2 separate regions of the Homo sapiens genome follow, and region 2 is linked to region 1. The links come from fine-mapping of genetic effects on gene expression. A gene starts in region 1. The other region holds a variant in brackets. All regions are shown on one strand. Distances are between the middles of the regions. Region 1 holds the start of HBP1 (HMG-box transcription factor 1). Region 2 overlaps COG5 (component of oligomeric golgi complex 5).

Region 1 (2,916 bases):
AATGCTTTATTACTATTTGTGAACATAGAAAGTAAGTATTTGATTACACGGGAGGACTACTTTATAATTTCACTTCACGGATTCAAATGGGGAATTCTCAAGAATTTTAAACTCGATTTCAACATGTGGGGGCTTATTTTGGATTTCTTGATTTGTTACGCGGCTTTCAGGTATATTTAAAAATCCAAGAAATGCAGGAGGTTTTAAAGAAATAACTAGCTGTGTGATTTCTGGCTCTGTCCAAAGGTTTGCTTTTACAGATTTCTTACTAATGTAGGTTTTCCTCATCTTAATTCTAAGCATATATTTAGTGATCTAAAGTTAGAAAATCTAAAGCACAATTTAAATGATTAAACACTAAAGGTTCAAAGGGGGGAAAAAGCTTAATCATGCCTTTGTAATGTGAATGGTAAAGACACCAATTATTGACTAGATGCAGCCGACTGTGAATGGACAGCCATGTTTAAAGAGAAGTTAACTATAAAGCAGGGAAGCGTCTCTGGTGAGTCAGAGAATTCGTAACTTGAGGAACTCCTAGTGGAAATGAAGTGGAAAGACAGTTTCTTTCATCAATGAGAAAACGTCTAGAAGGAAAAGAGGGTTAATAAAACTCACCAGAGAAACTTACTGATAATGATTCACAAATTAAATCAGTTTACGTCATACATTACACCCTTTGTATTACGTTAACCAACGAGCATACTAATCAGTATGGAAAATGCCGCTTTAACTTGCCTCAATTTCGTAATCGCCCGCCCCCGCCCCCGCTTTGTAAATTCTCTAGACTCCAGCTTCTCGCTTGCTCACAGTCCATCCCCCAGCCTCACTCTTCCTGGCACTTAGGTGGCGGCTCAACAAACTTAGGTGAACTGAACAGAGCTGACAAGGCAATCTCAAGTTGCTGTCCTGGGAGTGGTGAGGCAAGGCACAAGAGAAAGGACTTCTAGTTCTTCCCACTGCCAGTGCAGCCCCCAGCATCACTTTCGACCCCTTCGTGCCTGGGGCCGTGATTTGTGGGTGATCAAGTCCCTCGCTAGCCTGCAGTACTTCCGCTGGTGCAGTCATCTCCTTCCCCTCGCACTAAAACAATACCCTGGCCTCCTGCCAAACTCTTGAGCAGCGAGCAACTCTGGCTGTTTATGGCCCGGATTGGGTGCTGCAAGAGGCTTGGGCCGCTCTAAGTGTTAGCAGAGGCCCGGAGGAAAAGAAGAGGCCCAAGCTTTAAAACACTCCCTTCCTCCGCCCCCTCCCTTTTGTCCCAGACACCAAAACAAACGAGCTGATACACGTGTCCCTATGACTCTTGTTTACTATCAAGACTGCGCTGTGCGAGCGCCTCTGGGATACGTAGTCCAGCTCTTCCCCGGCCAGCAGTCTCCCACAGCCAAGGACCAAGGCTTGAGACTACGAACCCACAATCCATTTCGGGGACAAAGTTTGGCTTGGGTCCCCGGACTCTCGGCAATAGTCCAATCCGAAGCACTTACTCTTGTGATTGACATGCCATCTTCTCCAGTAAACACAACACAAAAGTCAATACATGCCCGCCCCCCGAGACGGACCACGGTACCACCCAATGGGAAAGGGGAAGAACCGAATGGCAGTTCTGCAGTCCAATAAGAGGGCGAAAGAGCTGGGCGGGGCTCAACCCCCAGGGGGTTGAGGGGAGGGGGAAGACGAAGCTTGAAAGACTTGGTAATGGCGACGGGTTTGGTAAGTAGGAAAGTTTCGGTTGAGGAGTAAGAGCTGCCGCGGGAGCAGTAACCCGCGCGGGGGAGGCCGACGTCGGTCGGAGAGGGGGTACGAGAGCTGCTGGTGGTGTTGTCGTGGCCGGAGCGGCCCGCGCCTGGGCTGCCGGCACTTCGCGGCAGGTTTGTTGTCTTTCAGTTAGGGAAGAGGTGGGGGTGGGGAAGGGAGGGGCAGGAGCGCGGGGGATTGGGCAGACTGGAGGGCTCGGGTCCTCGTTCCTTCTTCTCGGAGGGTTGCCCTTGGGGTGGGGGCAGTTAACCGTTCGATTGGTGCCCGCGGCGAGCCCACCGGAGCAGCGTCTCCCGCGAGCTCACCTGGGCTTCGGGGCGGCGGCGCTAGGGGGTCTCGGGCGGGGGCCGGGAGGAGGCAGGGGGAGGGCGAAGTTCCGGGCCAGGTCGCGCGGTGGGTGGCCGGGCCGGGTGTGGAGATGGGGCGGGCCAGGGCGGGGGAAGGGGCCGACGCAGCGCCGGGGCTGCCCAGGAAAGTTTGACTTCAACTCCCCGTTTGTGGGCGGAGGGTCGGAGCTTGGCCAGGGGTGGGGGGCTGGCCGGAGGTGGGGGACCCCAGTGAGGCGCCGCCTCCTTCTGGACTGAGGGGGATTCTGGCTGAGCTGAGGAGCTCGCGGAGCCGCTGGGCCCCGGGGCTCATTGTTACGCAGTTCGAATGAATGGGCTCCCAGGCGCCTGCGCGCTGGGGCTGAGCCGAGGGGAAAAACAAGCCCGGAGTCCGGGCTGCGGTCACATGATGGGGGGAAGGGAGGGGAACGCGATGAATGGCGAAAGAGGGTGGGGGATGGACTTGGCGTGAACCGGGAGGCACCGCTCTGTGTGACCCAAAGAGGAGGCTTGGCAGGCGATTCCAGTCTCCGCCTTTCAACCTATGCTGCCACCGCAGGCCGATTGAAACAAAACAAAACAAACCAGGCGAAGTGGACAGCCAGGTTTTTGTAGCTTTAAATGCTGCGTGCTGTCTAGGGTGTTTCACTCTCCGCTGTGCACTCTACACTCGAGTTCATTCTTAGGGAGTTTTCAGCTACAGTCGTTTTTAGAAGGAGCACTGACAGCGAGGTAATACTCAAGTTTTCTGTTTGTTTTGTTTTTGGCTCATGGTGCCACTGATGCCAGGACGAGAGGAGGCTTAGAAAAGGAGTTATACATACTGGGAAGC
Region 2 (2,916 bases), 140 kb after region 1:
CATGGAATAGATTATCCTAGTAGAGGCTGCTGGTCATATTTTAAGAGAACTGCCTGTTGTTTGGAGGATTTGGCCTGAAACAGTCAGCCTTCATAGCTTAATTAAGTGCCGCCTTTGTGAGCAGGCTGCTACCCATTTCTTGCTCATTCCTTTTCCTAACTGGCCCAGTTCTCAATCAACTGCCAGGCCTTCACCTATATCACCCAGATTATGAAAGCAAAGGAAGCCAGTAATCTATTGCCTTTAGGATGTCTTGAATGTTTTGTTTCATAAATGTACTAGTTATCTATTGTCATGTAACAACTTGCCATAAACATTAACTGCTTATTTTAAAAACATACATATATTATATCATAATTTCTTTGGGTTGGGAATCCTGGCATGGCTTAGTTTGGTCCTCTGCTTCAGGACCTCTCACAAGGCTGTCATCAAGGTATCAACCATGGGTGGAGTCTCATCTGAAGAGTCAACTGGGGAAGGATCTGCTTCCAAGCTCTTGTGGTTGTTAGCAGGATTCAGTTCCTTGTGAGCTGAGAGCCTCAGTTTCTAGCTTGCTGTTAGCTGGAAGCTGACCTTGGCTCTTGCCAAGTGGAATGGTATGACAGCTGCTTGTATCGTCAAAATGTGCAAGCAAAGAAGGCAATAGAGAGACCGCCTGAGAGCAAAATGGAGGTTAAAACCGTATGCAACCTAATCACAGGAGGGATACGCACTTTGTATGTACAAGTTAGAAGCAAGTTCTGCCTATATTTAAGAAGAAAAGATTACAAAAGTGTGCCAATACCAGTAGACAGATGTACTGAAGGCGATCTTAGAATCTTTCTGCCACAATAAAATATATCATATTTCATTCACATTAATGGGAATTATATAAAAGTCAAATACTAAGGGCCATACAGCAAACTTGCAAACACCTACTTTTCAAATACTTATATACTGTAAAGTATATTAATCCTTTCTAATACAAAACAATGACAAAACAAAATCAGTTTTACATAAAAAATATAATTGTCTAGAGTATTATTGGAAAAAAATGCCCAAATACACTAAAAATAGTTCAGACATACAATAAGAGTACCAGAACAAAACACAGCTAAGTCATTTGCCCCAAGTTAATGTTTTTCATCATTCTTTCTGCTTTAGCCACTGAAGTGGGTAATAATTTTTAGAAGCAAATAAACATTTATATGAACTAAAGCTAATTGTAAATAAATGTAATTTTCTTTAATTATAGTTCAGAAAAACTCAAGCCAGAATAGAAATAAAACAGACCTTTGTAAAACTCAGAGAAATCTCATTTAAGATTAACAGATATTAAAATGCAAGTCTTATATACAAAATATTAGGATGGAATGAATGAAAATATCTGTCTATAGCCCTAAGAGATTTCTCACATTTTGGTTTTCTATTGTTTCTCCTCCTCATAATGGCAGCAACACAAAGTTATGGAATCCAATACCAACTAGGTATGCATTCTGTACTGCAATCC[C/T]TTATTTTTTAACAGGGATATAAAGCATACACAATCTCTTCCAAACTTCTAACTCTGTAAGCCTCAATCCACTGGTGATAGGAAAATGGCCATCTTTCCTATCTCACAGAAAAACAAAGGCTTCTAGGAAAGAAACTCTTCAATTTTCTACCTTCTTCCCGTCTATTTCTAGTCTTCAACTTTGACAGGAACACACGTCCAAGACCTATTTCTCAATTTCTGTTCTCTGTTTCATCCCAACTCATCTCCTCCAAGATTATTTGTTTCTTTTGTATTTTTAGCACCTCACTTTCTACTGGCTTCCTCTTAGGATCAATAAAAGATGCCTGAACATGCTCTCTCATGATATAAAAAAGTACAAACAAGATGCCAACACACTCCGCCTTAACTCTATAAACTATTCATTTGCAGCCACTGTCCTGTTGCTCCTTGTAATAACAGTCTGCACACATTTGCTTGCCTCTTCCAGACTGCAGCCAGACTTTCAACTGCCACAACACCACTGAAATTATTCTGGTGAAAATCACGCTATCATTCCAATTGCCAACAACAGTGGGCGTTTTTCTGATCTCTCATTTGATTTCTGTTGATCACTCTCTCCTTTGAAAAATACTGTCCATGACCCCATTCTTTCCTGTATTTTCTACTTCTCTAAATTTTTCTTTATTCTTCTGTGCTGACTTCCTTCCTCTGCCTTAAGTGCTTTCCTTAAAATTCTGAAAACACTGTTTTTATAGGTTTCAAACATATAATGTAGAGAGAATAGTATAATGAACCTCTGTGTATCCATCACTTAGTTTCAGCATTTGTCAACTCTTGTTTTTATCTATATCCTGGCCAATGCCCCTCCATCACTACCAGTTATTTTGGAGCCAATATCATTCTATCATTTCACTCATAATCACAAGTATATCTAATAGTAGGAACTATTTTCTTTATATAGCCACAGGAGGTCATTATTCTAAGTGTAGTAACTCAGGAATGGAAAATCAAATATTGTATGTTCTCACTTATAAGTGGGAGCTAAGCTATATGAATGCAAAGACATAAGAATGATATAATGGACTTTAGGGACATGATGGGGGAGAAGGGTGGGAGTGGGGTGAGGAATAGAAGACTACATATTGGGTACACCCACTGCTTGGGTGATGGGTGTACAAAAATCTCTGAAATCACCACTAAAACACTTATCCATGTAACCAAAAACCACCTGAACCCTACAAATTATTGAAATAAAAATAAAAATTACACAAAAATACATAGCCACAGTTCTCTTATACTTTACAAAATTAACAATCAGTGGTGACATCTGCCTGATTGAGTTAGGAATTTTTTAATGCTTTGTTTGATTTAGGATCCATAAATAGTTCACCTATTATAACTAGTTGATATATCATCAACCTAATCTGTAGTTCTCTCATTTTATT

Evidence for each region. PIP is the estimated chance that this variant, and not a neighbour inherited with it, causes the effect. A credible set is the group of variants that fine-mapping cannot tell apart.
Region 2: its variant is the best candidate, but not a certain one, in a credible set for the expression of HBP1 in whole blood (INTERVAL, PIP 0.71).

The regions. Positions count from the first base shown.
Region 1 is chr7:107,167,315-107,170,230 of GRCh38, forward strand. HBP1 (HMG-box transcription factor 1) reads left to right here and starts at 1,689. Exons shown (of 11, transcript NM_012257.4): 1 at 1,689-1,871. RefSeq lists silencers at 1,217-1,790, 1,809-1,908, 2,169-2,388 and an enhancer at 1,339-1,498.
Region 2 is chr7:107,305,189-107,308,104 of GRCh38, forward strand. The region is part of intron 11 of COG5 (component of oligomeric golgi complex 5); the gene reads right to left. Among named protein-coding and RNA genes, the nearest start is that of HBP1, 140 kb to the left of the region's middle. The variant C/T (reference allele first, on the strand shown) is at 1,490.